Linked DNA regions of Homo sapiens. The protein of the gene in region 1 interacts with the protein of each later gene in a pairwise test. Each region holds a gene or a part of one and is shown in the gene's direction. Other genes may lie near its edges.

Region 1 (3,500 bases):
CTCCTTGTCACCATGCTGAGAGCCCTTGCCTGGTTTCTCATCCTGGGGAGCCTGGGGTGAGGGAGCCCCATGCATCCCTCAGACGTCAGCTGTCTTGTCTTCCACTTTCTGCATTAGATTTCTTTCATTTTTACGTTATTTTTTCTTTTTGTAGAGTTGGGGTTTTGCCATGTTGCCCAGGCTGATCTTGAACTCCTGGGCTCAAGCCATCCTCCGCCTCGGCCTCCCAAAGTGCCGGGATAACAGGTGTGAGTCACAGCGCCTGGCTTATTTCTTTTCTTTTCTTTCTTTCTTTTCTTTTCTTTTCTTTTTTTTTTTTTATGAGACGGAGTCTCGCTCTGTCACCCAGGCTGGAGTGCAGTGGCACAATCTCATCTCGGCTCACTGCAAGCTCCGCCTCCTGGGTTCACGCCATTCTCCTGCCTCAGCCTCCTGAGTAGGTGGGACTACAGGTGCCCGCCACCATGCCTGGCTAAGTTTTTGCATTTTTAGTAGAGACGGGGTTTCACTGTGTTAGCCAGGATGGTCTCGATCTTCTGACCTTGTGATCCGCCCGCCTCGGCCTCCCAATGGCCTATTTCTTTGAATAACATCCTGTTACTGGAGTCAGAGAGAAAGACCTCTGTGTCCTCCCTTTCACCTGTAGACGGTCCTCCCTGCTGCCTAACTGCTCCCTCTTATCCCCTGTGATCCCTCAGGCCCTTTCCTTGACTCTGTTGGTGTCCCCCATGCCCCCCAGGGTCCTGTCGGGGAACCCTCTGCACTGTTCTTGTGCCCTGCGCTGGCTACAGCGCTGGGAGGAGGAGGGACTGGGCGGAGTGCCTGAACAGAAGCTGCAGTGTCATGGGCAAGGGCCCCTGGCCCACATGCCCAATGCCAGCTGTGGTAGGTGCCGGGTGAGGGAGGTGGTGTAAGGGGGCTGGGGAAGAGACCTACCTGCCTGAGGGAGAGGGCACTGAGCAAGCACTGAAAAGGCCTGGGGAATGGGCACTGGCAAAGGCTGGGGGAAACTGCCTGGGGTGACATCGCCTGGGCTCCAGGTCATTGAGGAGGGTGGGGGAAGGAGCAGCCCCGCAGTAGAGTTCTGGGGCCACTCCCAGCTCTAACACCCCTTGGCCCTCGGGCGTCCTGGGTGGCCAGGTGTGCCCACGCTGAAGGTCCAGGTGCCCAATGCCTCGGTGGATGTGGGGGACGACGTGCTGCTGCGGTGCCAGGTGGAGGGGCGGGGCCTGGAGCAGGCCGGCTGGATCCTCACAGAGCTGGAGCAGTCAGCCACGGTGATGGTGAGAAGACCTTCGCTGGCAGCCCCCAAGAGGTCCAGGCAGAGCACAGGGGACAAAGATGGGGAAAGAGAGACACACTGTGGAGGAAAGAGACAACGAATAAGGAGCACACTGAGGTTGAGGGACGGACAGAGATGGTTTAGACCCACAGGGCTCAGGCCTATGCTCTGGGGCAGCCCAGGGCACGCACACACCCTCAGGGTGGGCACTGACCCAGCAGGGACCCCAGGCTATACTTGAAGCCCCAGGACTTAGAACCCCTTTCTGGGAACATGGTGTTGGCTGCAAGGGAGAGGGTCACAGAAACCTTACATGTTGGAGCTGAGAGGAACCCAACAGACCATCCCTCCCGTACATCACTTTTCTCTCTCCCTTCCTTCCTTCCTTCCTTCCTTCCTTCCTTCCTTCCTTCCTTCCTTCCTTCCTTCCTTCCTTCCTTCCTTTTATGGAGTTTCGCTCTGTTGCCCAGGCTGGAGTGCAGTGGCGCGATCTTGACTCACCGCAACCTCCGCCTCTCGGGTTCAAGCGATTCTGCGATTCTCCTGCCTCAGCCTCCCGAGTAGCTGGGAGTACAGGCACGCGCCACCATGCCCAGCTAATTTTTGTATTTTTAGTAGAGACAGGGTTTCACTACGTTGGCCACGCTGGTCTCAAACTCCTGACCTCGTGATCCACCCACCTCGGCCTCCCAAAGTGCTGGGATTACAGGTGTGAGCCACTGTGCCCGGCAGATCACTTTTCTATATAAGGAAACTGGAACCCAGGGAGGAGGCACAATATCAGTTGTACTGCATCCGGGATGAGTTCTCGGGGGTATCGTGGTCTTTTTTCTGGAGATTCTGGAAGCAGCATCCTCTTGGGCATGTGATGAACGTATTAGTAAGGGAGGCATAGGTCTGGCTCCAGCTCTCTCACTAATTAATTCTGGGAATGACTTTCAGAAAAATCCCTTAATCTGCCTGCACTTTGGTTTTCTTATCTGTAAGCTGAGAAGGTGGACATGATGGCCTTCTGATGTCCTGCCTGCCCCTGGGCGTTCTCTGGCCTCTATCTCTGTTATCCATACATGCCTTTGGACATCTTCCCAGGCCTTACCCTTTGTCCTTAGGCTGGCGATGGGCCGATGAGAGTAGCCACAGGTAACTCAGTCGGCCTTGTTGACGAGGTCAACGGCAGCTGACAATGGGCTGTGCCCACCCAAAAAGCTGGCTCCACCTGGGCAGGAGGAGTGGATATGCAGGGACCAGGAATGTGTGCCTGGGGGGCTGGGAGCATGGTGTTTATTTGGGGAGCCTTCACTTTGGTGGGAGAGTCCACCCCAGAATTGCTGGAGGCCCCTGGAACCATGTTGAGGGAGATGCCACTGGGGCGCTGAGCAGGGGGCTTCAGACATGGTGGAGGGACAACTAGCCACTGAGCAGTTCCTCCCTGCTCCAGAGAGCAAAGCTGCCTAGAGTGAGTAAAAGAAAGGGGACCAGGCAGAGGCCATACCCCTGCATGGAGAGACCTTAGATCAACTCTGTTTGGGGTGATTCCAGGATTTGCTTTCTCTTTGGGAGACTTACATGTTTGCTACCATCTGTGTTTTCTAGAAACTACCTATACAAAAGTCACTCCCTACTGGGCACAGTGGCCCATACCTGTAATCCCAGCACTTTGGGAGGCCAAGGAGGGATAATCACTTGAGACCAGCAGTTTGAGACCAGCCTGGGCAACAAAGCAAGACCCTATCTCTTAAAAAAAATTGCACCCTAAATGGGTTAAATGGAGGAGAAGAGAGGCTGCTCTCCCTCAGTTAGGAGGATAAGGGGTGGCAGACCAGCTCAAGGGGAAGAGTTATTGGCCCCACAGTAGTTGGAGGGGATGGGACAGCCAAGGGAAGCAGAGGGCAGGGCAGGGCTTCCCCTCGAAGTGGCTGGAACCCAGAGCTTGCACAAAAGGCTGGAAACTCTACTGGAACCTTTGAACTCACATATTCCAATGGAAGCCTGGGGAAACCATACCTCCTCTGGCATGTGGTCAGAGGATTCCACATTTATAAAGTTTTCGGATAAATGAGATTTATCCACCACTTCATTATTTTCATTTTGTGAAAATCACTTTCTAAAATGTCAGAAGATAATTTGTCCACCTCTTCAGCTTACAAAACAAACAAAAAACCCACAGTTCAGCAAGATGAAGAATTGTCGTAAGATCATGTAACTTACACATGACAAA
Region 2 (2,594 bases), on another chromosome or scaffold:
GTTATTTTAAAAATCCATTTGTTCTTGAGACCCACTGTTGCAGTATCCTCAGGGTCCATGCCATAGGACTGTGTTACGAGTTCAAAAGTATTATCATCAGATCTTAAGTGTGGTAGTAAATTCCTCCCAGAGAAGTTCAATATGAGGCTGCTCAGCACCTTCAATATGTCAGGTCCCTGTCAGTAGGTGTTGATTTACCAATGATGAACCACCATCAACTTTTGTGCTAAAGGAAGGCAGGACCTAGGGAGGCTTCAGCTAGCTGAAAAGCTGACTGACACACTTATATCTAGGAGAAGTCACAAGACACAGTATTAAGGAATACAGCTAAGAAATATCATTAAGTAATAGTCTATTTAAATAGCCATTCAAATATGGCTTTCTAATAACTGAATTGGGAAACCTTTCTGAAAAATTATTAATTGGATTTGGAGATTATTGTTCCAAAAAAACCTTCTGCCATATTTGGAAACTCATTTCTCAGTCTAGAAGTTCTCCACTGTAAGTAGCATTTGTTTTGTGATGGTGAAAAATTGAGACTTTTTTTGTGTCAACCATACTCTTCAATACAAAAGGACAAAATATTTTTTAAATGATTTAGGTCAGAGTTGAAGAAGTGGCTATGATTATATGTGGCATGAATTGATAGTTATTGTTACATCCAGTCCTAATCTTTTCTTCAAATGTGAACTGGATCGAATGATTCCTTAAGTCCAGCAAGGCAACAGGAAATTAAACCTCTGGTCTGCACACTTGCAATGCAAAACATTTAATGGATTTTGATAGAGTCAACTTTGTATTTGATGGAAATTTTTTACAAGTTTTTTTTTTTGGATGCATACAAACAATAAGCTTTTTATTCTAACATGAGCAAAGACCCTCAAAAAGTGAGACCTGGGTGGAGCTTCATTTGATGCTGCTCCTCAAAAGTGGTTCTTGCTAAAGGATACCATTTTTTTTTTCCTTTAAAACACTATGTTCATTTTGGAGAAGTGATAAGCTAGGTCACTTTTATTCTTATTTTATATAAATTTCTAAAGATTTCTGTAACATTTAAATTTACATCCTACTTGGTAAAGCTGTTTTTGTTATGAGATTGTTGTTTAGCTAAAAATGCTAACTTCTATCATTGAGAACACGAGGCATAAATGGGTTAACCAATTTATGCCTAGTGTTCCATTATTGGAACACTCAGCATGTGGGAGTTATATCCTACTGCTCAAGGTCATTTCCAAGGTCTGATTGTAAAAATTCAAAAAATTGCAACCTCACACATAAATTAAAAGAGATATAGTATTTTATTACTGGGCTTTCATTCATGTCTATCCTGACTGATTTCTGTCACAGAGAGAAATTTAGATATTTTATTAAACTTGGATGTCATTAATTCCATATAAAGCAATGCTAAGAGAGTCAGCATGTGTTACTGATGTGTTGCTGAAGATTAAAGTATTTTTATGTCTCAGTAAAAAGGTGGAAGGAGCCAACTGAGACACAAAAAAAGGGCTGAGGTTCTATTCATGGTGAGGTTCTTTTTTTGTTTCTTCCAGCTCTAACGTGGGTACCCAACTGTGTGGCTTTTCAGTGAGCCCCAATATAAAATGTAATAATTTTTTTCTATTCTTAGGCTTTATCTACCAAAAAATGAATTGGATAATCTACATAAACAAAAAGCACGGAGAATTTATCCATCAGATTTTGCCGTGGAGATACTTTTTGGCGAGAAAATGACTTCCAGTGATGTTGTAGCTGGATCCGATTAAGTATAGCTCCCCCTTCCCCTTCTGGGAAAGAATTATGTTCTTTCCAACCCTGCCACATGTTCATATATCCTAAATCTATCCTAAATGTTCCTTGAAGTATTTATTTATGTTTATATATGTTTATATATGTTCTTCATAAATCTATTACATATATATAGATAAAATGTCAGTGTCTTTCTTCTTTTTTGAAGGTACATACTTCACAGTTTCCATCTTGTATTTACCTAAATTTGGAACACAGTATGCAGGAACATCAGGCATCATTTTGAAGAACTTTGAAATAGAACTTTCAAAGCAAAAACTTGAGATATTCAAAAATTGTGATTCCCCAACACCCACTTACTTACATATTTTTGGTCAAGTATTTATTCCCTGCTTTGGTTCACATTTGTAATTTCAGATTTATTAGAAAGCTAATTTATATATTTTTCTTCCCCTTCATTTACAAACTGTCTGTTAACAGATTGGCAACCAAGACTAAGTTTTAAATCCAGAAGAGAGAAATGTTTCACGCAAGCAGTCCCCCAACTCCCAACACACACTCCCTTTCATTCCGAGCACTAAATAGGTAGCTTACTTGACAAGCTTCCTTTAATTACACACAGACATGGAGGTTGGGGTAAGAAGATGGTGGTAAATATGAAGATAAGTAATCTTTAATAACTTCTGCTTTTGTATAAAATTGTAAGTGAAGTGAAAAGAAATATTCTTAGAGTAATCTAGGTGTATTATTTTGAAATTCACTATTCCTGCTCACAACCAACTTCACCTAAGCTTGGGGGACTCTGAAGGGAGGTTATCTTTGCGTTATAAACACTGGTTAGCCTTATG
Region 3 (3,777 bases), on another chromosome or scaffold:
GGCCCATGTGAGAGTTATGACACTGGGGGAGTGGAAGGGGCTGAGTGTCTCAGGCCAAGGCTGGAGATGGGAGGGGGGAACCTCTGCTCTGCAACCCCAGAAAGGCAGGGTGGGGTGGGAGTAACCAGGGCCAGTGCAGCTGGAACCAGCTCAGCCTGTCCTCCACCTGCAGAGCCCATCCAGGAACTGTCCAGCACTGGGTGCTCCTGAAGGAGGCTGAGTCTGCCTCTTGAGCCCACAGGCCCTGGCTTAGCTTGTTGTCCTGGCCCCCACTCCCTGCTTATCTGACCCGCACTTCCTGCAGAGCCCAGCTGTGGATTCCCCCGCCCCCCCACCCAGCCGCTCAGAGTGCCCCATCCTCTAAAGGTGGTCATTTCCTTTCCTGAAACAGGGATTCAGTCTTCCCACTCTGCCCTTGGAAGCGGAGTTCCCCAGAAACAGGTCTCAGAAAGGGACCAGCCTGGAACTTGGCTCCATACCCCCCTTTTTTTTTTTTATTTTTTTGAGACAGAGTCTTGCTCTGTCGACCAGGCTGGAGTGCAGTGGCGTGCAACCTCAGCTCCCTGCAACCTCCGCTCCCTGCAACCTCCACCACCTCTGGGGTTCAAGCAATTCTCATGCCTCAGCCTTCTGAGTAGCTGGGGTTACAGGTGTGCACCACCACGCCTGGCTAATTTTTGTATTTTTAGTAGAGATGGGGTTTCACCGTGTTGGCCAGACTGGTCTCAAACTCCTGACCTCAAGTGATCCGCCCTCCTCGGCCTCCCAAAGTGCTGGGATTACAGGTGTGAGCCACTGCACCCGGCCTCCCCTCTTGTCCATTCTGCAGCCCTGGACCCTCCCACCTGGCGTCTGACACACAGTGGGAGCTCACCACTGCGTGGTGGCCAGAGCATGGTGGGTAGTCACCTCCCTCCCCAGAACCCCATTTCTTCATCTCTGCAATGGAGAAACAACTCTTTCTTACAGGGAAGATGTGAGGGGAGAAGGGTTTTAACAGGGGCATGGCCCACTGAAATGTGGGTTCTAGAACGCTGACCTTGGCCACATTGGAGGCTGGGTTTATGTGTTGGGGCAGTGGGTACCTCTGCAGCTGCCTGCCAAGAGCAGTTGGAGGAAAAGGGAATGAATAGAGCTGTGATTTTTAAACAAATTGCTTATTTAATCTTCATGACAGCCCCTTAAGTTTAGCACTGCTGTCACCTCCATCTTAACAGATGGGGAAACTGAGGCTCCAGAGTCCAAGGGGTCATTTCACTGGGTAGCAAGGCAGCTGGGATCCAAACCCAGACAGTCTGGCTCCAGATCTCAGACTTTTAACACTGTCCCAGCATGTCAAATGACCAGAGGTGGCCATAGGGAGATGCCCAGGCAGTGGGGCTCCCTTTGCTGGGGAACAACTGTCAAAGGCAACTGTGGGAACCCCTGGGACTGAGGGTCTGCAGACGCCGGTGCCAGCAGGGCTTGTCAAGCTTGGGATGTCTGCAAAAGCCGGGGGGCTCAGCAGAAGGGCTCCCACCCTCCCGTGGCGGTGGCAAAGGCTGAGCGTGGCATGAGAGGCCTGGGGTTGTCCTGGGTGCAGGGCTGTTGCAATAGCTGCCTCCAAGCGATGCTGCTCAGGCCGAGCCTTGGACTAGAAAGTTATCTGCACGGAAGAGCAGCTAGGGAAACTAATGCTCAGAACAGCCAAGACCACTAGTACCTAATCACCCATACAGAGGCATACAAGTCCCAAGGGCTCTGAATCCACACCTGTCCCCATCGCCAGCCAGAAGGCCCCCACCCATCCACTCTGCAGCAAAGTCACAGCAAGTTCAAGGGTTAAGTTAAGACCAGAAGCCATGCCTACTTTGCCTTCTGCCGGGGTGGTGGAGTGAGCTCAGATATTCTGGGAGGGGAGAGTTGGGGAATTCCAGCCACATCTGGCAGGAGGCCCTGGTTCAGAGCCTACCTTGTGGGGATGTGGTCTCTGCGGAGGTGAGCAGTAACACGGGCTTGAAAACCAACGCCCACGTATTCAGCAGTGAAGCAGAGACTGCGCTGTGTGCTGTGTTCCTGAATCTGCAGGGGAGAGAGAGACTCATACCTAGTCAGCGGGTGGGAGTCACTCCAGGCCGGAGGGATGACCTGCCCAAAGAGCATCTGTGTCCTGCCCAGGGAGGGGTGCAGAGAGGAGGCTGCAGGGGTGGAAGGGACTGCCCCACCGAGGCCAGGAGGGTGCTTGAGGAACAGCAGGATTGAAGGAGCCTATGTTGTCCAGAGTGAGGCTGAGTGGGCCAGGCCAGTGCTGCTAAGGTCCTGAGGACCCCTAAGGGCAGTGGACATGAGAAGGCATGGCTGGGCAGGTTTTCTGAGGATGGTGGAGGTGAGCAGAGTGAGGCCTTGTCTCTTGTGTCAGGCAAGGAGGTACCCCAAGAAGAGGCTGCATGAGACCAGCCTGGGCAACATAGTGAGACCCCCATCTCTACCAAAATATCAAAAAATTACCTGGGACCGGGTGCACTGGCTCACATCTATAATCCCAGCCCTTTGGGAAGCTGAGGTGGGCGGATCACCTGAGGTCGGAAGTTCGAGACCAGCCTGGCCAAGATGGTGAAACCCTGCCTCTCCTAAAAATACAAAAATTAGCCGGGCTTGGTAGGACGCACCTATAGTCCCAGCTACTCGGGAGGCTGAGGCAGGAGAATCGCTTGAACCCAGGAGGCGGAAGTTGCAGTGAGCCAAGATCACGCCATTGCACTCCAGCCTCGGCAACAGAGCAAGACTCCGTCTCAAAAAAAAAAAAAAAAAATTACCTGGCCATGGCGTCTTGTGCCTGTAGTCCCAGCCACTTGGGAGGCTGAGGCAGGAGAATTGCTTGGGCCCAGGAGTTCAAGGCTGCAGTGAGCTATGTTCAAAGTGCAGTGCACTGCACCCCAGCCTGGGCCACAGAGTGAGACTTTGTCTAAAAAGAAAAGGCCTCAGTTTCCCCATAGCGAATGGTTCATTGGGGGGTAGGTGGCACTGCCCACCCCAGGACATAGGAGAGAACCCTTAGTTCTGACCGTCTCCCCCTTCATGCACTTGGTTCTCTGACTGCTGCTCTGAGGACGGAGCTAAGTGAGGGTGCAGGAGGAAGGGGGGGTCTCTTGGCAGTGGGGCGCAGCCTTTTGAGGTGCTGCATAGCTAGTTTGACCTGTGGGACCACTGACCATCCCTCCTCTTCCCGGTGCTCCTGGCCTCCTGTGGCTGGGATGGTGCTGGGGAGGAGGTGGGGGGTGCCAGCTGGAGGTGGGCGGGGCTCCTGCCTCTCCCCGCCCCCAGGGCCACCGCCCACTGTGCCGCGCATCGATTGGTCGCGGGCCCATTAGGCGGGGCGGCGAGTCCGACTCATAAATATTTTAAGGAATGACCCGGCCCTGGGGTGCGGAATTGCTGCGCGGGCGGGGGCTGAAGACCGGCTTTTTTTTTTTTTTTTTTTTTTTGGTCCTCCAATTGTCAGCGCTATTTTTACCGCCGGAAAGCCGCCGCCCCCTCCCCCATGCCGGCTGGACCTACTGTCTAGCCGGGCTGGTGGCTGGGGTCTCTTGTCTGGGTTGCTGGTCGTGGGGTTAGGAGAGGCCGTGGCCTGGAAAGGCGATGAGCAGGGACTCCATTAGACTTCCCCTGCCCTCCTCGCTCCATCCCCCAGCACCAAAAACCACTCTGAAGCCCCCATCCCATCAGAGATGGGGAAAAAAAAAACACATTTTTTCAGGAGGAGAAGGCAGACAGCCCAGCTGAGCCTAGAAAAACCGG

Evidence for each region. Proteins that work in one complex are often made in the same cells at the same time.
Region 2: the proteins of NTRK1 (region 1) and TPTE interact in a two-hybrid assay, tested with the Homo sapiens proteins (one study listed by BioGRID and IntAct).
Region 3: the proteins of NTRK1 (region 1) and SH2B2 interact in a two-hybrid assay, tested with the Homo sapiens proteins (one study listed by BioGRID).

The regions. Positions count from the first base shown.
Region 1 is NC_000001.11:156,867,365-156,870,864, forward strand, and holds part of NTRK1 (high affinity nerve growth factor receptor isoform 2 precursor), read left to right. Parts: intron 1-739; coding exon 740-885; intron 886-1,140; coding exon 1,141-1,283; intron 1,284-3,500. UniProt on the Homo sapiens protein: Receptor tyrosine kinase involved in the development and the maturation of the central and peripheral nervous systems through regulation of proliferation, differentiation and survival of sympathetic and nervous neurons.
Region 2 is NC_000021.9:10,603,790-10,606,383, forward strand, and holds the end of TPTE (putative tyrosine-protein phosphatase TPTE), read left to right. Parts: intron 1-1,627; coding exon 1,628-1,763; 3' UTR 1,764-1,927; downstream 1,928-2,594.
Region 3 is NC_000007.14:102,289,758-102,293,534, forward strand, and holds part of SH2B2 (SH2B adapter protein 2), read left to right. Parts: intron 1-3,345; exon of another isoform or gene 3,346-3,430; intron 3,431-3,777. UniProt on the Homo sapiens protein: Adapter protein for several members of the tyrosine kinase receptor family. Involved in multiple signaling pathways. May be involved in coupling from immunoreceptor to Ras signaling. Acts as a negative regulator of cytokine signaling in collaboration with CBL.